6 separate regions of the Homo sapiens genome follow, and regions 2, 3, 4, 5 and 6 are each reported to be linked to region 1. The links are microRNA targets in miRTarBase. Many come from high-throughput screens and were not tested one by one. Region 1 holds a microRNA gene; each other region holds the end of a gene's coding sequence.

Region 1 (4,091 bases):
AAGCCAGAGGTGCCGCTTGTGGTTTTCAAAGTGCTTGCAAATTCTTTGACACTCTTCCCATCAAATAGTAGAGTTTATGTTCCCTCCTGTTGAACTTGGGTGGGCTTTTGTAACCGCCTTGATGAACAGAATGTGGCAGAAGTGAGGATAATTCTGAGTGAAGTTAGACATACAGCTTCTCCTGGCTTCTCTGGGGAGAACTGCTCTGTGGGGCATGGGCTTCCATGTACAAATCAAGATACTCTGAAAAGGACCACTTGGAGAGTCTAAATAAGTAGACAGATACCTAAGGAGCCCCAGTTGTTCCTATCCCCAGCTTCTTGAGTCTTCCCGGCCCAGGTGCCAGAGCTTTCAAGATGACCCCAGCCTCATCCACCACGTGACTACAGCCTCATGAGAGACCTCAACCCAGCTCAGCCAACCTGCTTCCTAATTTCCGATGCCTTGAAACCATAAAAGACAACAACTGCTTGTTCTCGTTTCAAGCCTTTACAATTTAGGGTGATTTGCTATGCAACATTAAATAACAAGACCACAGCCTGAGTAAATGAAGCTGCTGAAGGGAGCCCAAGAGAAACTCGGAATTACCTCCAAATTTCTCTGAAGAAAGGATTCGAGGTAAGGAAAAGATCTGCAGCTGCTTGTAAGGCAGATCATCTGTCTTCACCATGCTGAAAGAGCAAGGTGGACTCCTGCTTGAAGAGCACTGTAACTTACTCATGCAGTAATGTGGAATCAGGAAAGGAAAGTGATAGTAACAATTTGCTTACAATTGCCAGGGCAAGGGCAGAGACTTGGAGAACACAGTGGGAAATGAATGGTAAATATGTCATTCTCTACTGGAGGCAGGAGTGGGAAGTAATTAGCTGGGGAGGAGTGGGAGCTGGCTAAGGTCAGAAACAGTGACCTTACAGCATTATTATCTTTCAAATTCAAATACACTTCTATACCTCGCTTTGGGTTGCTGGGACAGAAACTGCAAACGACATTTCTATTTTTCCAGCCAGATACCTTTCAGGCTCTTTAGGGGGTGGTAGAGGGAGCCTGCAAGGCTGGAGGAAGAAGAGAGAATTTGCTGCCTCCTGTCTACTTCTTATTCCTGTGATGTCACCTGAGCAAAGCTTCTTCAAATGGGCAGAGGCACGGCCTTCTCACAGCAGCAGCTGAATCTGCTTTTCAATTTTGTCCCATTTATAAAACACGCTCCTTTGTACCCACTCAGAGACATTAACCCCAGCCAGCCAGTACCAACTCCTCAGAAAATTTGAGTCTCCAAGACTCCTACTCTACGTTTCCAAGTTTAATAATTCCAATCTCTTCCCTCTTTTCCCTCAGTTGAAAGGGTGGTAGCTGATGACTGCAGTTGCCACTTACCTCTGTGATACTTTAGAGATCTTTTTTCCCTTCTCAGTTACCTAGCTAATGGCTTTTTACCTAGTTGCAATTCTTCATATTAAAATTTTCCTTTTCCTTTACCTGGTGTGGCTTCTGTCTGCTGAATGGATCCTGACTAATAAAAGGTATTTCTTCCAAAGAAAAATCTATGATGGTAACTGAGGTTGGGGGTAACTGAAGGTTCAAATAGCAGGGAGATCAAGTTCAAATACCAAATGCAAAGACCACAGACAGAATTTGAAAGAGTGACCACAAAGTTAGGAGGTTGAAGGTGGGCAGAGACATAAGCAAAATAAGAGTAGGACTGGAACAAGATAGAAGGCTTAGGGTGATTGCTATGGAGGTGGAAATTATCAACCCATCCACCTACCCGCTACCCTCCCCCAGTCAGTAGGATGGGTAAAGCTGATTTAAAAACCTCAGGCAAGGCCAGGCGCGGTGGCTCACGCCTGTAATCCCAGCACTTTGGGAGGCCAAGGTGGGCAGATCGTGAGGTCAGGAGGTTGAGACCATCCTGGCTAACATGGTAAAACTCTGTCTCTACTAAAAATACAAAAAATTAGCCAGGCATGGTGGCATGCGCCTGTAGTCCCAGCTACTCGGGAGGCTGAGGCAGGAGAATCACTTGAACCTGGGAGGTGGAGGTTGCAGTGAGCCGAGATCGTGCCACCGCACTCAAGCCTGGGCGACAAAGCGAGATTCTGCCTCAAAAAAAAAAAAAAAAAAAAATCTCAGGCAAAAGTGGACATTACTTGTCTAGATTTGGGGTTGATGAGGGTTTTTTATTGGAGGTGGGAGTCGTTTTGTTTTTTTGAGACAAGGTCTCCCTTTGTCACCAGGTTGGAGTGCAGTGGTACGATCTCCGCTCACTCCAGCCTCACCCTCCTGGGCTTAGGTGATCCTTCCACCTCAGCCTCCCGGGTAACTGGGATGACAGTCACATGCCACCATGCTTGGCTAATTTTTAAAATGTTTCGTACAGATGGGGTCTTGCTATGTTGCCGAGACTTGCCTTGAACTTGTGAGCTGAAGCGATCAAGTTCTAAGAGCAGCTTATAATATGATTTTTAACGCATGTTGTCTATGATCATAGAGGGAGATAGACATGGAAAGAAAGAGGGCCTTTTCTGCCTTGTGCCTTTTTCCATGTCTATTCTAAGGACCAGGATTGCCTTGAGACCAACACTGTGAGAGCCCTGACTCAGTATCCATAGATATTCTATCTGCACATTGCAGAGCACTAAGCCAGTCCGCCTTCTCAGCTTCAGACTAGTCAGTTTCATGGACTTTCAGCATCTCTGTGTAGATGTTTCCAGGCACCTCAAACCCACCATGCTCAAGGATGGATCTAATCTCTTTTTTCATTCAGATTTCCCCCCCGCCGCCACCATGGAAAGCAGGTAGGAAACACTGGATTTCTTCAATGTAGCCCCCCAAAACAGAAACCTGGTTGCCTTTTCTTTTTTCTTTTTTTTTGAGATGGAGTCTCACTCTGTCGCTCAGGCTGGAGTGCAGTGGTGTGATCTCGGCTCACTGCAACCTCTGCCTCCTAGGTTCAAGCGATTCTCCTGCCTCAGCCTCCTGAGTAGCTGGGATTGCAGGCGCCCACCACCACACCCGGCTAATTTTTGTATTTTTAGTAGAGACAGGGTTTCACCATGTTGGCCAGGCTGGTCTTGAACTCCTGACCTCAAGTGATCCGCCCGCCTCGGCCTCCCAAAGTGCTGGGATTACAGGCATGAGCCACCACGCCCGGCCCTGGTGACCTCTTAGCATCTTCCCTTTTTGCTTCTTCTGGCTTCAAACTATTTGAAATACTCTGTGTGACACATCAGTGAACAAAATGAAGTCTTGTTGCCTAGTTGGGAAAAATGGAAAATCAGCAAAAGGTAAATCTGGGAAAGACTTTTTATTTAAATTATTTCTCTTTGAAGGGACTCATGAAAAATTGAGAAAATAGGGAGCGGTACTGGTCATGAGGAATGTGGGGAGGGAATCCTGAAATCTCCAGCTCTGATTTGCAGAGAAGGTTTGAGAATAAAGAGCTCCAAGAGCTGTTTGACTCATGTTGGCCGATCCTGAAATCCAGAAGTCCCCTGGCAGGAAACCCTCTGGAGACGACAGACTAAACCATCCTGCCATTGTCAGCCTCACAAGGGGCTCAGCAACTCAGCAAAAGGAAGTTGTTTTTTTGTATTGCACTTTTTTTTTGTCTTAAAGAGATATCCTTCTTAATAGTTACATTAATATCTTGAATAAAGATGGAGAGTGTATGTCAACTTGGAAGAGACAGCAACCATACTGGAAGTCAGAATCAGAATCTCAAAACATCTTAACATAAGGCTAAAGAAAGGGACCAACAACAGAAGAGAAATTAATAGGAGCAAAGGTAAAATTTTGTACTGAGGTTCAAAAAGCCACTTGTAGAAGTGCAGAATGGGGAGATGTGGCTGAACAGGACCCCAAACTTTTCAAGCTTGTTCTTGATGTTCTCTCAGTCAGGGTATGCTAACTGCTATAATGACAGTGCCCAAGTCCCAGTGATTTCAAGATATCCTGTGGAGAAAAAAGTATGGAAGGGGCCAGGCACAGTGACTTATTCCTGAAATCTCGGGACTTTGGGAGGCCAAGATGGACAGATCGCTTGAGCCCAGGAGTTCAAGACTAGCCTGGGGAACATAGCGAGAACTTGCCTG
Region 2 (4,091 bases), not on the chromosome of region 1:
AAGGAAGGAAAGAAGAAAAAAGGAAGGAAGGAAAGAAGGGAAAGAGGAAGGAATGAAGGAACAAAGGAGGGAAAAGAGGATGAAAGGAAGGAATATTTATTTAATGGAGGAAGGAATGGTTGATGCCATTAATAGATATTAATTTGTCCAGGCTATTTTGTTCTTCCCAACTGCCATATAATCTATGCTGTTAGGGTTGCCAGATTTAGCTAATAAAAATACAGGATGCCCAGTTAAATTTGAATTCTGATAAACAATGAATATTTTAAAAATATAAGTATGGCCCATGCAATATTTGGGCCAGGCTTATACTCAAAACCTATTTGTCATTTATCTGAAATACACATTTAACTGGACATCCGTTCTGTATTTTGTCTGGCAACCTTACGCGCTTTTCACCCTGAATATGTGTTTTTATCAAGCCGCCCACAACAGAAGTGGCAGCTCATTGGACTAGAATACTTTCCTGCCAACAATTTCAAGGCTAGGTGTGCTGTTAAGCTTGTACACTATATTACACAGTGATGACTATAATTTCAAGCCTTTATGCATTTCAGACTCATTGATTTGCTCTCTGTTTAATTTCTATTAGTCAAGAGCATGTGGCTTTTAAAGCTATATACAAATACATATTGAAATTGTTTTAGATTACTTATGACCTAAAATAGAGATGCACACTTAATATTTTCTAATGAAATTTTTAACGAAAAGTTGCATTTAATATTTGGCAGAGCATTTTGCAGGATTTAAGATATATCTGGTAAAGGAAAGAAAATTCAGATCAAAAGTTGTGTCTTTCAAAAAACATTGATAGGTTAAAGCTCTCATAGTTTCCAAGAAATCTTGATCATACTTTCTAAAATATCATGTCACTTTGCACAATTTGTGCTACTATGCATTACAACTAAGATTAGAGTTCCAGACAACAGTGATGTCATTTCATGACCATTTAGAAACCTTACATGCATCATTCTAAGCAATGGGCAAGGTATTGCATAAATATTGTTCTAAAAGAGGACCCCGGGGGTGGAGGCATTTTTTTCTAAGGTGACCAAAGCACCAAGAATCGACCTTTGTACAGATGGGGGAAACATTCAGGCAGATAGGAGTATTTTTACGATGAACACAAACACAGCCAGTACCTGCACCATCTTTTCTGTTTACAAAACATACATACACGCCCATGGCTTTGAGTGAGTCCCAAACACTCAAACCTGTTTTTCTGCAATCCTCTCAGAACCACAGCCTAATGGTGCTTGTAAGGATGGAGCTTTGGTTTTGTATAATGAAAACACCAATACGGTGCTTTCGAGGTCCAAATTAGATATACTCATCCTGTACAAATGCAGAGAAGTGCCAAAATGGCTATCTTATCTATGTATTTAATGGATTTGGAAGTACCTTTTGTATATGTTTTTCCAAATTATTGGTTCACCTTTGAATCCCTAGAACAGGTATCATACACTCCAGATTCTGACTGACGATGGATCAAGCTTTCTTTTCCTTACCTCTCCCTATCTACATATCAGAGTGTTTTGGCAATTATATTAATTTTCTAAAAAAGATTACAAACCTAACAGGTGGAAAAGTGGTCTTTGTTATAGTACAAATAAATATTACCTATTTGTCCTCTTCACCATGGTTTCAACCCACCACTATTGGATTTGAAATATCTTTCTTCTCTCTAAGTATTCTCTGTATGCCCCCCCTCTTTTTTTTTAAGAACCAGGAAAACATAATGGCAAGTTATTTAAGATTTAAAATGTTATGCAGCAAATAAATAGGACGCTGTTGAACCCCAAGCTCAGGTGTGAATTCAATGGATGCATTTTGGCTTTTCTTTCAATTCCGTGAGCTGAACAAATCATGCTTGGAAAGAATGAGAAGAATCTGCCAATAACACATTCAATCATCATGATAAAAACATGCAAACCAAAAAGATAGTCTTCATTTGGGTCTAGATAGCAATTAGAGTTATAGGAGGACTCCTCTCCATCAGAAGCGTAGATCGCCTCACTCAGGGGAAAGTCCCAGGTCAGATATTTTAACTTTTTATTTCATCTTGGCCATCTTCACACCCAGTAAACCCCTCTGTCTGATGTGAGGCAAGCCCAAAGCCATGCCATGTAAATACCGCTCTCTACCTGGAACTCTCCTAGTGTCCTACCTTTCTAGCTTGTTCTGAAAGTCTTCTATTTGTAAACCAATGCTCTGACAATAGGGTGTGGTGAGCGATTATATGTTATTAGTTTTTCATATTCGATCGTGAATTAAGAGCTAATTAACTAGGAGCAAATCCGTAACTTAACATGACGTCAACTGGATTGGTCAGCACAGAAGGTTTAGTTCAGGTTGGGTTCCCATCTTGGGGAATGGCCGAAGGTGGAGGACCACCTGAACACATAGGAGGGCCCTTAGTGTATGCGGGCATCATGCTGGAAGGGAGAGAAAAAGAAGTAGAGAAAACACAAATGGGCAAATGAAAGAGATTGGTTAAGACCCAGCCTTGCTTATCCTCAACATTTGAAAATGGCTGGTGAAACTAATCTGCCAAAGCATTTGACCTTGGTCTCTGCCCTGTTTCCTAAAAATGACACAAATGGTCTGGGCATGGTTGACTATATAAGGCATGGAACTTCTATGACACATGATGCACATTATCTTCAAGCTATGGGACTCCATGCACATTAACATAAGTGTACAGAAAGCCATTTGTTTCTTTATGTGAAATGAAACCTCAAGGGCACACATTGCCTCTATCTTTGTTAAAGGTGGGCTCTAATACTGGTCTATCCACAAGAAAACCAAAAGATGAAAGAAGAAAATAAGCTTCTTTTCATCTCAATGTTCTGCAAAGAAGAATATTTTTCTACCAACCTGTTAAGGGCACATGCTCATTCATAGGACACTTAATGTAGAAAATAACCAAAGGGAAGAGGTGGAAGGTGGCAATTACTAAAAGTAAGCTGCAAAAAAGCATTCATTACAAGTAACAATCATAAAGACAACTTTAAGCTATTCATGAGCTGATTAAGGAATCTCTATATAGTAACTACTTCTAGCACTCTCCAATCTTTCTTCCATTGCTCAACTTTTTGTCACTTTATAAGTCATTGGCATTGCTATGGAAAGGTGGGGTGGTGAAATGGAATGGTGACAGAAGTTAGTATCTAATAATTAAAATGAAAGATAGCCTTGGCTGGACACTGGAGCTTGCCTTGGGTAATTCAGGATTATGGATGATGAAGGCCTAAAAAAAGCAGTAGTAATCTGTGAACTTTATCTCTCTAAACCCGTTTTATTCTAGTTCCCAGCTCTAAACTAGAGGACTTAAGAGAATGATTAGGACTTAGTTTTCATGTTCTGGTCTTTCATTAAAATAAATCCTACTCCAGCAAGCTACTATCCTGCTTGGCATTGGGAGATGCTAGCTGCCTCTAAGCAGACCCATCTCCCTGTAAGAAAGCTCCTCACCAGGCTAATCGCAATGCCTCAGAGCAAACCCATACCTGCAGAGCTATTCTTCATCCACGTCTGTTACAAACTGTGAATGGTGTTCGGGTGACTTGCTGTGCGTTTTGCTTAGGTGGAGTTTTACCGCATGTTTGCTCACAAATGTCCGACAGCACAACTTACACTTGAATTTAGAGTCTGTGTCCTCTTCGGCAGCTATTGTTTCTGGAGACCTCTGAGCCGACGATACCCGGGAGATCTCTTGCTCCACCTTGCTTTGCTGGTCCACTGACAAGCGGGTCATGTCCTTCATTTGGAAACCCAGGTGAGATTCTAAGTGACTGATGTAGGTAGAAGGGGTTCTGAACTGGGAGGCACAGTCACTGCAATAAAAGATGGGGTGGCCTTTGTCCATGTTTTTCAGAAATTTTGTCCCGCCCGTTTTCCTAAGCTGGTACTTGACGTTGGCCAGCCAGTGACTGATAGTGGTCATTGAGAGTCCCGTAAACTTAGAGATTTGCATACGCTCTTGTGGGCCCAGATCAGACAGCAGGTATTTGCCCTCTGATGTCTGGAAGAGGCTCGAGGCAAACTGGGCTTGTAGAATCAGAAGATGCTGAGGATTCCAGTTGGACTGC
Region 3 (4,091 bases), not on the chromosome of region 1:
TGGACAAAGGACAAATCTGTCTGGAAAGTGTTTTAATTTGCCTTCTCTTCTGTCCTGATTGCAGATGGCTCACACTGCTGAGATAACTCACGAGATCATTGGCTTTCTTGACCAGACCTTGTACAGATGGAATCGTCTTGGCATTGAAAGCCCTAGATCAGAAAAACTGGCCCGAGAGCTCCTTAAAGAGCTGCGAACTCAAGTCTAGAAGGCACGCAGGCCGTGTGGGTGCCCGGCGTGAGGGATCAGGCTCGCCAGGGCCACAGGACAGGTGATGACCTGTGGCCACGCATTTGTGGAGTAAGTGCCCTCGCTGGGCTGTGAGAATGAGCTGTACACATCTTGGGACAATCTGCTAGTATCTATTTTACAAAATGCAGAGCCAGGTCCCTCAGCCCAGACTCAGTCAGACATGTTCACTAATGACTCAAGTGAGCCTTCGGTACTCCTGGTGCCCGCCCGGCCAGACCGTCAGCTTGATAATTACTAAAGCAAAGGCCTGGGTGGGAGAACAGGTTTCTAGTTTTTACCCAAGTCAAGCTGCACATCTATTATTTAAAAATTCAAAGTCTTAGAACCAAGAATTTGGTCATGAACCATTAAAGAATTTAGAGAGAACTTAGCTCTTTTTAGACTCTTTTTAGGAGTCAGGGATCTGGGATAAAGCCACACTGTCTTGCTGTATGGAGAAATTCTTCAAGGGGAGTCAGGGTCCCTCAGGCTTCCCTTGTGTCTCCCTGGACCTGCCTGACAGGCCACAGGAGCAGACAGCACACCCAAGCCCGGGCCTCCGGCACACTCTTTCCACTCTGTATTTGCTAAATGATGCTAACTGCTACCAAAAGGCCCTTGGGACATCAGAGGAGCCGGCAGGCGAAGGTAGAGGATGTGTTCCAGAAACATTAGAAGGCAGGATTAATTCAGTTAGTTAGTTCTCTTGTTAAATGGAAATGGGAATTGGAAATTCCTGATAAAGAATTGGCCTGGCTGGGTGCAGTGGCTCACACCTGTGATCCCAGCACTTTGGGAGGCCAAGGCAGGGGGATTACTTCAGCCCAGGAGTTCCAGACTGCCTGGCTAACATGGCAATACCCTATCTCTACTAAAAATACAAAAATTATCGGGGTGCAATGGCATGCATCTGTAATCCCAGCTATTCAAGAGGCTGAGGCATGAGGATCTCTTGAACCCGGGAGGTGGGAGTTGTAGTGAGCCGAGATCATGACACTGCACTCCAGCCTGGGCAACAGAGCGAGACCATCTCTTAAAAAAAGGCATTGTTAGTGTAATCTCAAGGTTAACATTTATTTCATGTCAGTACAGGGTGCTTTTTCCTTTCAGGGACATTCTGGAATTGTATTGGTTGTACATTCTTTTGTGTCTATTCTGTTTGTCAAGTGAGTCAAGACTTGCTTTTGTCCATTTTGATTTGTGTGTATTAGTCTGAGTCTTGGCTCCGTTTTGAGGTATGAGCAAAGTTTTGCTGGATTAGAAGTTAACCTTTAGGGAAATTCCTTATTTTGGTATGTGGCAATGCTAATAGATCCACTGAAGATCTGGAAAATTCCAGGAACTTTTCACCTGAGCCTTTCTTCTGAGAAATGCTGCAGTCAGAAGGGTGTGCTGGTAAAGTATTTTGGTGGCAGCTGCCATCATGGTCATTGCCTTCATATAACATGCTTCGTGCTCATGGTCATTGCCTTCATATAACATGCTTCGTGCCATCATGATCCTTGCCTTCATATAACAAACATGCTTCGTCAGAGGTGTTGGGGTTGAAAAAGGAGCTGCATGCTTCACTGGAGTTGAGGGCCTCTCTCCTGTTCTGACTTTAAGCCAGAACTTGTGGCTGGGCCATGGAAGCTGTGACTCCTCTGTGGACATGGTGGCAGCAGGGAACCCCTAGAGAGAGGGGCCACTGGGACCAGGCCTCCTGTTGTGGAGGGACTCCTGGGACAGTCCTCCACCCTGTCCTGTGGTCCTGTGTACAGGGTTGGCCTCTTCCTCCTCCCCTGCCAGGCCTCTGCCCATGCCCCTTCCTTCCTTCTCCTGGGACTGGTGAAGCTAGGCATCTGGAAGACTTCTTCCTAGCCTGGAAGCCCTGACCTCGGCCCATCTGCAGAATCTCCCAGTTCCTTCACAGCTGCCGAGTCCTCTCACGGGTGCGGTGGAGGCGGCCTTGCCGGTGGTGCTTTCTGGGCAGCCAGGGGTTCCTGGGTGGGAGGACTGTCCCTCTGGGGACGTGGCACTGAAGTGCCTGCTGGCTTCATGTGGCCCTTTGCCCTTTCCCAGCCTGAGAGATGCTCAAAGGTGGGGAGCTGGGGGAGCCACCCCTCGGCCATTCCCTCCACCTCCAAGACAGGTGGCGGCCGGGCAGGCACTCTTAAGCCCACCTCCCCCTCTTGTTGCCTTCGATTTCGGCAAAGCCTGGGCAGGTGCCACCGGGAAGGAATGGCATCCGAGATGCTGGGCGGGGACGCGGCGTGGCCGAGGGGGCCTTGACGGCGTTGGCGGGGCCTGGGCACAGGGGCAGCCGCAGGGAGGCAGGGATGGCAAGGCGTGAAGCCACCCTGGAAGGAACTGGACCAAGGTCTTCAGAGGTGCGACAGGGTCTGGAATCTGACCTTACTCTAGCAGGAGTTTTTGTAGACTCTCCCTGATAGTTTAGTTTTTGATAAAGCATGCTGGTAAAACCACTACCCTCAGAGAGAGCCAAAAATACAGAAGAGGCGGAGAGCGCCCCTCCAACCAGGCTGTTATTCCCCTGGACTCCGTGACATCTGTGGAATTTTTTAGCTCTTTAAAATCTGTAATTTGTTGTCTATTTTTTCATTCTAAATAAAACTTCAGTTTGCACCTAATGTTGTATCCATTAAATATTACAATCCTTCTCTCAGGAAAAAGCTCCCCCGATGGCCCCAGACAGTGGAAGCTTCGGGCCTCAGGAAACCTAGATGTGCCCTGGAAGAGACCGAGGATGGCTTAGCCTCTGGGCCTGGGAACCTTGCTACTAAATACCTAAAAACTAAGGGTCCTGTCACCAAGGAGGAAGCAGGAGGACAAGGGCAGGCATCTGGCAGGGCCTGCCAAGATCAGGTTACATGCGTTTCATATCTGTGTTTTCTCTAAGCCAGGCTTGACCATAAGCCTCACTTGAATTGTTCTGTCTCTTCCCTGATCCCTGAAGCTGAAGGCCTCGTCCCACCAGCATAGCCCACCCACTCTTGCTCGCTCCGTTGCTTCACAGGCTGCTGTCCCCTCCTCCAGCCCCACAGGCCCCTCTGGGAGGCATGAGTGATGCGGCCAAGGCGAGCAGCGCCGTGGCCACCCCCAGGACCCCCACTGCAGTGGGGTTTCCAGCACTCCCCATGCTTCCGGCTATGGGACACTAGGGCCCCTCTCGGGGTCAGGAGGGCGCCTGAGGGAGCAGACAGGAAATGCTAAGACACTCCTGAGGAGCCTCTCACTGGAGCAGCCATGGTTGGCAGGGTTTCGTGGTTTGTTCTTCACCCTGTCCTGCCTGGTGTCTAAGTGGTGGGACAAGGTGCTAGGACAGAAATGGGAGCTAGGACAGAAATGGGAGCTAGTCCAGGGGATGGGAGGAAGCCGAGTTTTCTGTTGAAGTGGAGAAGTTACGAATGGGGTCTTGACAGGGAAGCCAGAGAAGAAGGGACCTTGGTGAGCCTGGCAGAGTGAATCCACCCAAAATGCTGGGAAGTCAAAACCGAGCCTGGCCTTACGCTGCCCAGAGGACGGCGGATGCACTGGAGGATTTGCACAGTGGGAGCAAATGTGAGGAATGTTCTCCTTATTCAACAAGGAATCCAAAATTTTTTTGCTTTCCAAGGAAGAAGAGAAACAGTTCCCCGTGCTTCTCCCCTCGCCTTTTTCTTCCTCTGTTTCCAGCCCAGGACCACCTCCCCCAGCCCGGGGGCTCGGGTGCTAAAGTTCTTCCCTCTGCCAAATGTTGGGAAATCCGTAGATTTTGTCGAAAAATCCTAAGTCATTAATCATCGCTAAGCCATTTTACAACCAAAGAACAAAAATTAAGATACAGTAAGTACATAACATGTCTTCAAGCCTCCTCCTAA
Region 4 (4,091 bases), not on the chromosome of region 1:
GTAACACCTCAATCTGAAAAGTATCAGGGCAACACCACACACTGCAGAGGGGCAGGGCTCCTCCGGCAGTTACTCACTTCCCTTGAAACAGAAGCTCAAACATGGAGTAGTCTTCTGTGACTAAACTTGTTTTCCGCCCTCCCAACTTCCAGGAAGAACCTTCTTCTGAATAGGATTTGAGGTAACTTAGGAAACTGCTCTCAATACGGAATTTTAAAGTTGGTGAGGAAGTCGACAGAAGGGGAAGTCACAGTAGGAAAATCAAGGTACTATCAGGATGAAGTCAGCACGCAGAGCAAGGCCAGCGAGGCCCAGGCGCCAGGCCTTGGTCCCTGCCCACCTCACCCAGGCCAGCCAGACAGCACGGACTGCCCTACAAGGTCACCTCAGAGAGATGGGGGTGTTCTCTCACTGCTGGCTTTTGATGAGCCCAGGAGGGCTCAGCCTTCACTATCCTCCCTAACAGGCATTTGGGGTGCAGAGATGCTGACGCCTGAATAAGGTTGGGATTCGGGGCCCTTGGGAACACTGGGCACCTGGTGGGTGGGTGGAGGGGCAGGACCGGCTGCAGCCATGTTTCCCTTAGAAACAGACTGCTGGAATTAACGAACTAAACAAATGAACCAAGGTGCTTCACCCCCCAAAAAAGTGAGTTTTGTTCTGCGTGGAGCGATTGCCTTTGGGAAGCCACCAAGGCCACCTGCCAACAGGCAAATGCTGTGCTGCCGTCTGCCTGGCTGACTCCGGCCCTCCCAGTCCTGCAAGCTCATGGCCAGGACGATAACGATGACAGGGGCAACACCATGGTCCTCGCTGCCCTTCCTGGGGCAGGAGGGCCCAGAAGACTGATAAGCTAAACCCAGGGCCTCCCTCGGCTGCTTATCTGCCCAGCACCTTTCCTCTAGGTCCTCTCCTCCCACCAGTACAGGGGTCTGGGAGGGGGTTGCAGGGGGTCCTGAACCACAGATCCCTGGAGACTCAGTGGGAGCAGCTGTACTAGGAATCAGGCACCACTCCGCTGCTGTAAGTCTTCGTGAGAGCCACTGGCCAGCTTCCTCTGACTTCCCTGTCCCCTCACCCAAATCGATGACATCAGGAGCTAATGGCCCAGGCTGCCCTCCTGCTGCAGTGCCCATAATTCTTCCGGCAGGCCCCGCCCTGCACTCCACGACCAGCCTGGGTTCTTCATCCTGGTAACCTGACAATGGATTTCGTGGGGCCCACTCTCAGTGCCCGCCAGCCTGTGTCCTGCCTGGCCAGGCAATGAGTACCGGCGGCAGGCAGCTGCCTCACCCCTGCATGACCCCCCCAGCCCAGGGGACTCAATGGCGCTGTCATCAAAGGGGCAGCTGTAGATCTAGGAGGGACGTGGAGGGGGCTAGCCCTGGGCCTCTGGCATTGTGGAGGCTGACCTATAGAGAACAGAGCTGGAGCTGGGGAGACATGAAGTCTGCACATCTAGACCCCAGTGAGGAGCCCAGGCTTTCTAGGCACAAGCCCCATGGGCTCCCCGGGCCCAGCCCCTAAGAACCACGGCAGCTGCGCCAGGCCACTCCTGTCTCCACTTCCATACCCTCCAAAGGAGAGGCACCTCCCCCCCCCATGGCATCTCCAATCTGAGGACCTGCCACCTCCCAGAGGACCGGAGGCCCTGATGCCCCAAGAATTGGGCTTGGAAAGATGTTAATATCCACTGCCCCAAGTGCCAAGGTTCAGAGGCACTGGTCCAGGACACACAGCAGCGGGGAAGTGGAACCCTCACTCCAGCCTGCAGTCTGGGCTCTGTCACTGTGCTGTCTCTCCATCCTTCCCTCCCCACAACCAGGGCTGTAGGCCCACCTAACACACCACACACTTCCCAGAAACAGGAGTCACATCCTTTTCAGGGCTGGTAGGGTGGCTGAAGATGGCCCAAAACCTCCTGAATGGAAAAACCTTGATGGGGAGACTGAGGGCCAAGGCAGAGGTTTGTCCAAGGTCACCCCCAGAGTGGCGGATCCAGGACCCTGGGCAAGATCTTCCTACTGTCCAGGCCTCTCCCCCACCTCTCTTGTGTGGCCCAGCACCCTGGACTCCTCCATGCCCAGGTGTGCTCCCCCCAGGCACGCTGGGGGCAGGGTGGGCAGCAGGTGCCCCCCACCAGGATAGTGGTTCTTCCTCCTGCAGACCTTCAGCCCTCTGCTCCTGGCAGGACACTGTGGCCCTCCTGCCCACGTTGGTGCGGGTTGAATTTGACGGCCCAGCAGAATTCCCAGGCAGGGCAGCCTGGCTATCCTCCCTGGTGTCTCGGCTCTGAGAGCGGAGACCCAGCCTCCCAGCCTGGAGTTGTGGTGAATTCGCAAACAAGTCTCCATCTCCAGAACCTTCCTGAAGAAAACAGCTCTCCAGGCTGGGGCAAGAAGCCTGTCCCTACAGTGATACAACCACCCCTCAATAACCCCGGGCACCACCTGGCACCCACTGGGGGCCACCAGGGAGCCCACCAAGCCCACTCCGGGCTTGGACAGAGGGCAGGCCTGGAGGAAGGCACATCCAACCCCACTGACCGGCATGCACCTGGGGCCAGGGGCCTGCTGCCACTGCAGAGGTGAGAAGCAGGAGCAGCAAGACCTGGTGCCCATTAGTCATGGGGGAAAAGCAAAAGGGGGAGACAGGGACAAATCCAGGCCTGGGTGGGCTGCCTGTCAGGGGGAGTGATATCCAAGGAGGAACTGGTGGTCAGAGTGGGGTGGGGGATACCCGGTACAATTTGTTCATGCCTCAACACCAGCCACCGCGGGCCTGCCAGCCCTGTGTGCCCTCCCTGGCCCGGAGTCCACAGGGTGCAAAAGGCTGACCGCACAGGACCTCCCGTGAGAACCCTACGCTGCAGAGCTCGTTCTCTTGGCTTCCAGGCCTTTTTATACGCTGTCCTGCTGCTTGGACATGCCAGTCCCCACCCCTGCACCTACCGAGCTCCTGCGGCACTCAGCTGTCACCCATCTGGGACGCACACCTGTCCGAGGCTCTAGATCAAGGTGGGAGGTTAGTCCTCACTCCCTTCAGGGGCTGGACAGCGAGCTGAAGGCCCGAGCCCAGCTGCACCCAGAAAACCTGCCACTTGGAACTCACCTGACCATCCAAGCCCAGCCCCCAGTGCATGCGACAGATGAGGCAGAGATTGTGCCGTACAGAGATCAATATATATAAAGTGCCGGTACAACGCTCTGAAAAATAGTTTTGTCCCAAAATCCAGCGCCTAGGGTGCTCCGGGCCTAGCCTTTGCCAGTGAGGTCCAACGGCTGCAGGAATGGGGGCAGCGGCAGCTCGTCCAGGGCCTCGGGGAAGCGGCCTGGAGAGATGGCGGTGACCAGCACCTGCATGGCGCGCGCGAAGAGCGAGGGCGGCGCCAGGCCCGCCAGCCACTGGAACTTGTCCTCACCCAGCAGCCGCTGCCAGCGCGGCCGGTCGCCCAGCAGCTCCTGGCGGGCCGAGCCGGCGGCACCCACGGGGGTGTACAGCGCCAGGAGGTCCAGCAGCAGCAGGCGGCGCTGGCGCGGCTCCCCGGGAGCTGAGGCGGGGGCTCCGGCGGCGGAGGGAGTGGCCCCGGCGTCGCGGCCCAGCTGGCGCAGCAGCAGCTCGAGAGGCGTGAGGCCGCCGCCGTCCCGCAGACCGGGCGAGGCGCCGTGGCCCAGCAGCAGGAAGAGGCACTCGGGGCGCGCCAGCTCACAGGCCACGTGCAGCGACGTGCCACCGCCCTCCACGCGGCTGCAGCCACGCCGGTCCAGCACGCGCGCCCGCTCCTCGGCCGGGAAGTCGCGCAAGGTGCGCAGGATGCGGCGCAGAATGCCCACGCGGTTGTAGCGCACTGCCAGCGCCACGTGCGGCCCGGGAGCCGCGCAGCAGCGGAAGCCGGCACTGGGCGGTGCGAGCGCGCGCCGCGGGAACGTGGCCAGCAGGTAATGCGCGTACGCTTGGTGGTCGTGCACGAGCGCGTAGAGCAGCGCCTCAGAGGGCGAGTAGGCGGCGGCGCGCCCGCGCTCGTCCCAGTGGAAGGCCTCGCTGGCGCGCATATCCTCCAGCAGCCACACGGGTAGCAGGTCGCGCACCGC
Region 5 (4,091 bases), not on the chromosome of region 1:
AAAAGAATGCACTATCACCATCTTCTAATTTCCGCAAAGTATCAGAATTTTATGACTACAGATTAGCCTCATTTCCTTTCCCAAAACCTTTTTCTTCAGGCTGTTTTAAAATCACGATTTCATTTACCCTCTGACCTCAAAAGCATACAAGAATTATAATTGAATTATAATGGAAATTATTGCTTGCATTTATTCTGGATGCTCTGAATGAGCTTGACACTTTGCTCCCAGTCTCCAACTGAGGCTCAGCACAGCTATCTCCGAGGACAACCCTGCTGACTGTTATTGCTTGTGAATACTGAGGATTAACTTGTATGTACAGTAACAGCTTATATATCAGTGAAGGCAATTTAAAATATAAAACAGTTGAAAACAAACAGCTTAATCTTCCTGAATCAAGAATCCCAAGGAGTGGGATATAATCATGTGTGCTGATTATTTTTGCATTTGGATGTTGCTAATGCTCTTCAGAAATACACGTTGCTCTATAGATATCCTTTCCAATGACTCACCATTTTAAAAAATAACATAATTTGATTTTTAAGTGCAAAAATACAGTATGAGTCACAAGTCTCTGTGCTAAAAAATAACCAATTTATATGTTTGTTTTTAGTAATAAAAACGGTAAAGACAGGTGACCATAAAGTATGGGCACCTTTTTCAATGTTATGATCTAGGAAAGAAATAGATTACTATTTACATGTAGAAACTCTCTGATCATACTTTATCTATACAGAAATACAACGATGTTTGACTGATTCATACAACATAAAAGGGGGGTCCTGACTGAAATGAATGTAAGTCGTCAGTGCAGGTGGGGGTTTAAGGTAGGGATCTGACAGTAGTCCTCAAGGAATCAAGACTAAAGAGAACACAGAAGAATCTCCACATTGTATTCTTGGAGCCAAGGGCCTTCAGATATTTTTACTGGTTAGTATAAAATGTTACAGGGAAAAGAACTGATTATCTTGTTCTTTTCTAATGATGACAGTCACCAGGGATCTTCATATGGCATGATTCAGAATTGATGGTTTTAAGAAATTCAAATGATTTTTTGACTCAAACTAGTCATTTATATGAATGTATGTGTGTATGTATATATACATACAGACAAACATATATACAAGTATTCAGGAAGAGAAATTAATACGCACTTCGACTTCTCTTGTGGTATGAGAAGTAAAACAAAGGCTACCTTCCCAAAGGAAAATCCCATCACTTCCCCTAGTATGAAGCAAAGACCTTTTTATTCATATTTCGTAAAAGCAAGAGGTCCACTACATTTGAAAAAATTAAAAAAATTGGGCAAGCTTCCTTAATTGAAACCAAGCAAATCTTCATCAAACATACTGAATTCAAGTCAAACCTCTCTGCAACATCCTCCCAGTATCCTTCCAAAATATCTACTGGGGTTCATACTACATCCATATTTGTTTTATTGATAAACTAAATTCTTAGAGTCAAGAAATTATATCAGTGATTCCTTTGAAATAATCCTTTCCCTTTACTGTAACAAGTTCTTGGAACTAAAGTTTTCAGTTATTTATTAACTTTTTCGCTATGAAGCAAGCCAATGTGACTTTGAAGTCAAAATATAGGCATACAGATCTGAACCGATCTGTGGTTATTTATTCACAGTCCTGTAGGGTATCTGGGACTTTTGTGTATAAAAGAAAAAAGGGCCTGGTTAATACTCTTAATTGAGTAAATCTAATGGTATAGGGTAATGTATAATAAACACATATGCAATAAATCTTGTCACTACCAGTCTATTTTTTTTAGGTTAGTGTCATTATAAATGGATGAAGCTTATACCATTTAGAGTTTACACCATTCTCTGATATAGTATGAAAATATTCAGAAGCTTAAAAAACTAGAATAATGCGGCAAAAAAACCCATCAAATCAAATGTATCCAAGGAGAACCATAAATTTTTCCCTTAACATCCTTTGTTGAATATGCTATTTGCATAAGGAAGCTATAATAACTAAGGAGTCTTATTTTCTGCAGATTTACTCACATACCAATACACTGAGTAAATAGTGAAGCTTTAGGATCTCAAATGCTCCAAACAATTTCACTACACTGGATACAGGGAGTAAAAATATGTCGTGATTGTGATCCTAATGTGATTCCTCCCTTTAAAATACCATCTTAAAAATTCAAAAACTATATTCATGCCATTTGAATGACCAATGAAGAAACATAGTGTACACTTCTACCTGTTTATACCAATAGCTAATAATCACCTGAAGGACCACTAGCTAAAAGAACAGAAGGAGAAGTTGTGAAGTTAGATGAACTGGGGAAACTTAGAGTTTATGTTGCTGCAAGGGCTAAAAGCAGCAAAGCAATAACCCTGTAAAGATCCCCATTTCTCAGGAGAAAAATGTGAACACAGTCACATTTTAACATCAAGAATGGAAATAAGAATTAACCAGTCAATACTAGATGCACAAATCACCTGAAGAAAAGAGTTAAGTACCTGCTTCTGAACGGAAGATGAAATTGACCCTTTTACAAAAAGGGGACATCTAGGTTTCATCTCTTAAGAGCAACAGGCTCAACTTCCTGATTTTTAAAAATCTAGATGATTTAATAATATATATCACTGTGCTAAAATAACTTTCCTGAAGGATCTTTAGTCCACTGATTGAGGGAAGTTGCTACACACTGGAGGAGATTCAAGTTTGTTCAGGATTTTCGAGGGTGTGCTATGCAGCTACTGTCTATCGGAGATAGAATCATTATTATTTCTTTTTGTGGCAAATCTGCTACACAGTCCATTCAAATAGACATGATCATTATTCCTGACAAACTGGCCTAATTCCAGTTTTTAATGCCTTTTATTACCAATTATGTCTGTAAGTGTTCAGATCCAACCCCCAGGATGGATGGAGTTTACCCAAATTCTCTTCACTTCCTTCTTCCTCCCCCGGGAAAAATCAAATTTGTATTTCTGTGGGTTTGACAACTGAGTCTCTTTCAAGTCTGTTAATACGGTAACTCTGTCATTCTTTAGAAGAGACCAAAGGTCACTAACTTTGCACAAAAGCATTTCTTCCTCCTGCACCTGGCTTTGCTCAAGTAATGTTTTCTTTTCTTTTTCCTCCTCACCACAGTGCTTGGGACGAGAGAATGTAAACATCGACAGAAACAGCAGCCCTATGACCACATAAGTACTTTCCCATCAGGTAGATTCCATCAGTCAACTAAACATTTCGTCTCCTTTGCTTGCTGGGCAGTCACTGAGATTTCCGTGGTAATTTAGTGTCCCCTTTACTTTGGCCTCCATCTGAGAAAAAGAGACGTTAAATTGGTATGGGTCCATATGTTACAAAAACCAGCTAACAAAAACAAAGCAAAAACAACAATTAACTTTTATCTTTTGTGGATGACATCTCTGAAAAGATATCACTTTTAATATCTTGCATGCCATATAGCATTATAGAGGTTGATAAAACATCATGGAGATAAAAACTCAACAACAATGATCCTCTTCTCTCAAATGACTGTGGTTTTCAGTGTTTTTTAAATATGATTTCAACAAGTATTTATCATTTACGTCCCAGCCAATTGTGTCAAATGCTGTGAGAGGGTTATAAAGGAACCAGAAGACACAATTCCTACCTCCGAGGGACCCACTACATCTTTCAACTCCTTTGGAAGACAGGTCAATTTCATTTTTTTTTTTTTGTAAGTGAAATAAAATTTCTTGCCAGGACACAGCATTTCATAATTCCTGATTATTTGTGTAAACAAACGTAGCAAACTTTTCATCTGTAGTGAAAAACATCCAGCTGAGTGTGTGCTCATTCTAACCTAGCTTTAAGTGACAGGAAAGTCTGCTACTGGGACAAGGCTCTTTCCTTTTTTTTTTTTTTTTTTGAGACGGAGTCTCGCTCTGTCGCCCAGGCTGGAGTGCAATGGCGCGATCTCAGCTCACTGCAACCTCTGCCTCCCAGGTTCAAGCAATTCTCCTGTCTCAGCCTCCCGAGTAGCTGGGATTACAGGCGCACACCACCATGCCCGGCTAATTTTTGTATTTTTAGTAGAGACAGGGTTTCACCATGTTGGTCAGGGTGGTCTCA
Region 6 (4,091 bases), not on the chromosome of region 1:
ATAATATATATTACATTATGTATAATATATAATATATATTACATTATGTATAATATATAATATATATTACATTATGTATAATATATAATATATATTACATTATGTATAATATATAATATATATTACATTATGTATAATATATAATATATATTACATTATGTATAATATATAATATATATTACATTATGTATAATATATAATATATATTACATTATGTATAATATATAATATATATTACATTATGTATAATATATAATATATATTATATTATGTATAATATATAATATATAATATATATTATGTATAATATATAATATATATTATATTATGTATAATATATAATATATATTATATTATGTATAATATATAATATATTATATTATGTATAATATATAATATATTATATATTATGTATAATATATAATATATTATATATTATGTATAAGATATAATATATTATATATTATGTATAAGATATAATATATATTATATTATGTATAAGATATAATATATATTATATTATGTATAAGATATAATATATATTATATTATGTATAAGATATATATTATATTATGTATAAGATATATATTATATTATGTATAAGATATAATATATATTATATTATGTATAAGATATAATATATATTATATTATGTATAAGATATAATATATATTATATTATGTATAAGATATAATATATATTATATTATGTATAAGATATAATATATATTATATTATGTATAAGATATAATATATATTATATTATGTATAAGATATAATATATATTATATTATGTATAAGATATAATATATATTATGTATAAGATATAATATATATTATGTATAAGATATAATATATATTATATTATGTATAAGATATAATATATATTATATTATGTATAAGATATAATATATATTATATTATGTATAAGATATAATATATATTATATTATGTATAAGATATAATATATATTATATTATGTATAAGATATAATATATATTATATTATGTATAAGATATAATATATATTATATTATGTATAAGATATAATATATATTATATTATGTATAAGATATAATATATATTATATTATGTATAAGATATAATATATATTATATTATGTATAAGATATAATATATATTATATTATGTATAAGATATAATATATATTATATTATGTATAAGATATAATATATATTATATTATGTATAAGATATAATATATATTATATTATGTATAATATATAATATATATTATATTATGTATAAGATATAATATATATTATATTATGTATAATATATAATATATATTATATTATGTATAATATATAATATATAATATATTATGTATAATATATAATATATAATATATTATGTATAATATATAATATATAATATATTATAAATAAGTTGGATGTGGTGCACACACCTGTGGTACCAGCCACTCTGAAGGCTCAGGTGAGAGGATTGCTTGAGCCCAGGAGGTCAAGGTTGCAATGAGCTATGATCGTACCACTGCATTCTGGCTGGGCCAGAGCGACACCTGGTCTCTAAAAATAATATGACTTCAAGTACACAGTTACTCATTTGAGGTAGTAAGGGGTGGCATAAACATCAACTGTTCCATCATTAAGTACACTGTGGCCTCTTTCTTGTCCTTCCACTATAGAGTAAATAGTAGTCAGATAACCCAGGATGTACAACAGAACTCAGACATGGACCTCTGCAGTGCTTATTTTGGCTCTGTAACTACTGAAAGAGATCTCAAATAAGGATCTTTTTAGAAACTTAAAGTAGTACTTCATAGTACTTAGTAGTACCAACACACGCTTTGGGTAAAAGGAAAATCCTTTATGAAAATGCAAACTTTAGGAATTAAATGCTCCCCATAGGGACTCACTTATTGCTGTATACGTGACTGCAGGCAGAAAAACACAATCTGAATGAACTTGTTTTTTTTCTTAAACTTGGAAAACCCAGAAAAGGTGAGTGGTATACAGGGGCCAATTAACATAAATAGCACGAGGAAAAATGAGAGGAAGTCACTCCTCTCCTCCCAATGGGAGTACTGTGTTTTGAAGGATTCATGAATGGAATTTCAGAAACTTGGCAAAAGAATACATTTACTTCACTTACTCCATATATATTCTGAATTTCATATTTACTAAATAAAGTGTTTCCAAATGAACATTTCTTTTTTTACATGTTACATGTAAAATTGTTTTACATGTAAAAACATGTACATCTTTTTAACATGTTACATGCAAAAAATCTTTTTACATGTTTGTTATATGTTGTTACATGTGAAAACTGCACATTAAAAAAAGGAAAGGCAGGCGAATTCATCATTCAAGTTTTTAGATGTCCATATAAACTTCCACATAATCCACGAATATTAAACTGGATAAACAAAGCACTCTACAAAATTTACCTTGCCACAGATGTGAAATAATTGTAAGCATACATAAATGTTAACAAAATGCTTTCATTCAATTCTAAGGGGAGGTATCATTGAATGATGGACCAAAACAAACTAAATAGCATTTTGATGTCTGTGGAAATGACATACCCACAAACCAGTGGCTCAGCACTGATATTAATATATCTTGCTCAGTTGCCTTAATCATTTACAGCAGTATAATTTTTTTTAAGAACACAGACAGTAAGGTGCTTTTAATAATTTTGATATGGCCATAGAGTATATCTATTTTTTGAAGTCCTACTTTCATTGGAATTGCCTCTTTATCCTAATGAGTAAATACAAAAGAACGCACAGATAAGATAGCTTTTGTCTTCTTCTTCTTGTTTTCTGAGAAAGAGTCTTGCTCTGTCGCCCAGGCTGGAGTGCAGTGGCACAATCTTGGCTTACTGCAACCTCCAACTCCCGGGTTCAAGAGATCCTCCTGCCTCAGCTTCCTGAGTAGCTGGAACTACACGTGCGTGCCACCACGCCCGGGTAATTTTGGTATTTTTAGCAGAGATGGGGTTTCACCATGTTGGCCAGGCTGGTCTCAAACTCCTGACCTCAAGTGATCCACTCCCCTCGGCCTCCCAAAGTGCTGGGATTACAGGCGTGAGCCACCACACCCAGCAGATATTGTCTTCTTTTATTAGAGAAAAATGTACTTTTCTATGCCTGTGCTTTCTACATTTTTGGAACTGATACAAATCCACAGAGGCCAAATCGAAATCTAAATTATCTTTAATGTTAAAATTTAATTGACCGTGTACATAACTATGCAATCCCTGCTTTCTCACAGAAGTGTCTAGGATTCATTCAACAGATCATAGAAACGAGGTCTGGCATTTAACAGACGAGTGACAGAGGAGCTATACCGATTTATACAACAATTATCAAAACACTGTCATGTAGTTTACTGTAGCTCAAGTTGTGCTTGTATCATATAACATAGGTTCAAGTTCTTTCTTCAGTCATCAGAATAACAGAGGTTGAAGAGACAACTGGGTAAGTGCCAACTTTTCCAAAAGCTGTTTCAAAAAAAAATTTAAGTAACTGTAATACACATTTCTGCAAATAAAATATTCCAGTGCTACATCAATCCTGAGTTTTTAATATTAAATATGCACTACTTACAGTTCTGACATGATTTTATTTAAAAACATGTCTAGTTATCAAGTTCACTGTCTTCATCGGAAAAAACTCTGTCACAAAGGTCTTCAAAGTCCTCAAGAGCCTAAAAGAAAAAGTCTAGTTCACTGACAAACCACCACTTTATATCTCGCATTTTAAACAGGGTTAATTAAATGTCAAAAGGAAACAGCTTTTAATATTCAAAGGATGCCAGTTATTCATTTCAAATAGAAAAAACTATAATCAATACATGGAGCTCCAAATACCCAATTAAATTTTTTAATGCCAGATTTCAGTGACATATTATTTTAGCAGGTCTAACAGTCATGTACTTTGCTTAAATAAAATGGGTTGAAGAACATCTTAAGGTCAAGATGGAGCGAAGACAGAAAAAGACGGGCAGGCTTATATCATGAAATATTATATTTTTTTTCAGCAGGTAGCGACCCATGTATTATCAGCAATAGCCTACATAACATGGTTTCCATTGAAGGGATAAAATG

The links. The annotated mature microRNA hsa-miR-4430 reads AGGCUGGAGUGAGCGGAG and lies in region 1 at 2,256-2,273, opposite strand. An mRNA with a match to its seed (bases 2 to 7 or 8) in the 3' UTR can be bound and repressed. Matches are read on the target gene's strand: a 7mer-m8 pairs with bases 2 to 8, a 7mer-A1 pairs with bases 2 to 7 and ends in A, and an 8mer does both.
Region 2: miRTarBase lists TSHZ2 as a target of hsa-miR-4430. The part of its 3' UTR that is shown has no 7-base or 8-base seed match.
Region 3: the mRNA of FANCC is a reported target of hsa-miR-4430. Seed matches in the 3' UTR shown: 7mer-m8 at 1,234-1,240.
Region 4: the mRNA of ANKRD9 is a reported target of hsa-miR-4430. Seed matches in the 3' UTR shown: 7mer-m8 at 3,047-3,053.
Region 5: the mRNA of UBN2 is a reported target of hsa-miR-4430. The part of its 3' UTR that is shown has no 7-base or 8-base seed match.
Region 6: miRTarBase lists FAM9B as a target of hsa-miR-4430. Seed matches in the 3' UTR shown: 7mer-m8 at 2,834-2,840.

The regions. Positions count from the first base shown.
Region 1 is chr2:33,416,701-33,420,791 of GRCh38, reverse strand. MIR4430 (microRNA 4430) reads right to left here and starts at 2,276; the gene lies at 2,228-2,276.
Region 2 is chr20:53,255,990-53,260,080 of GRCh38, reverse strand. It overlaps TSHZ2 (teashirt zinc finger homeobox 2), which reads right to left. Exons shown (of 3, transcript NM_173485.6): 2 at 3,510-4,091. The coding sequence ends at 3,518. Among named protein-coding and RNA genes, the nearest start is that of TSHZ2-AS1, 250 kb to the left of the region's middle.
Region 3 is chr9:95,097,824-95,101,914 of GRCh38, reverse strand. FANCC (FA complementation group C) reads left to right here. Exons shown (of 15, transcript NM_000136.3): 15 at 65-2,861. The coding sequence ends at 208. It also overlaps a transcript of AOPEP not described here. Among named protein-coding and RNA genes, the nearest start is that of MIR3074, 14 kb to the right of the region's middle. RefSeq lists an enhancer at 1-256.
Region 4 is chr14:102,503,682-102,507,772 of GRCh38, forward strand. It overlaps ANKRD9 (ankyrin repeat domain 9), which reads right to left. Exons shown (of 4, transcript NM_152326.4): 4 at 1-4,091. The coding sequence ends at 3,255. Among named protein-coding and RNA genes, the nearest start is that of ANKRD9, 4.0 kb to the right of the region's middle.
Region 5 is chr7:139,296,991-139,301,081 of GRCh38, reverse strand. It overlaps UBN2 (ubinuclein 2), which reads right to left. Exons shown (of 18, transcript NM_173569.4): 18 at 1-3,295. The coding sequence ends at 3,246. Among named protein-coding and RNA genes, the nearest start is that of TRR-CCT4-1, 42 kb to the left of the region's middle.
Region 6 is chrX:9,021,893-9,025,983 of GRCh38, forward strand. It overlaps FAM9B (family with sequence similarity 9 member B), which reads right to left. Exons shown (of 9, transcript NM_205849.3): 8 at 3,592-3,691; 9 at 2,340-3,485. The coding sequence ends at 3,623. Among named protein-coding and RNA genes, the nearest start is that of FAM9B, 10 kb to the right of the region's middle.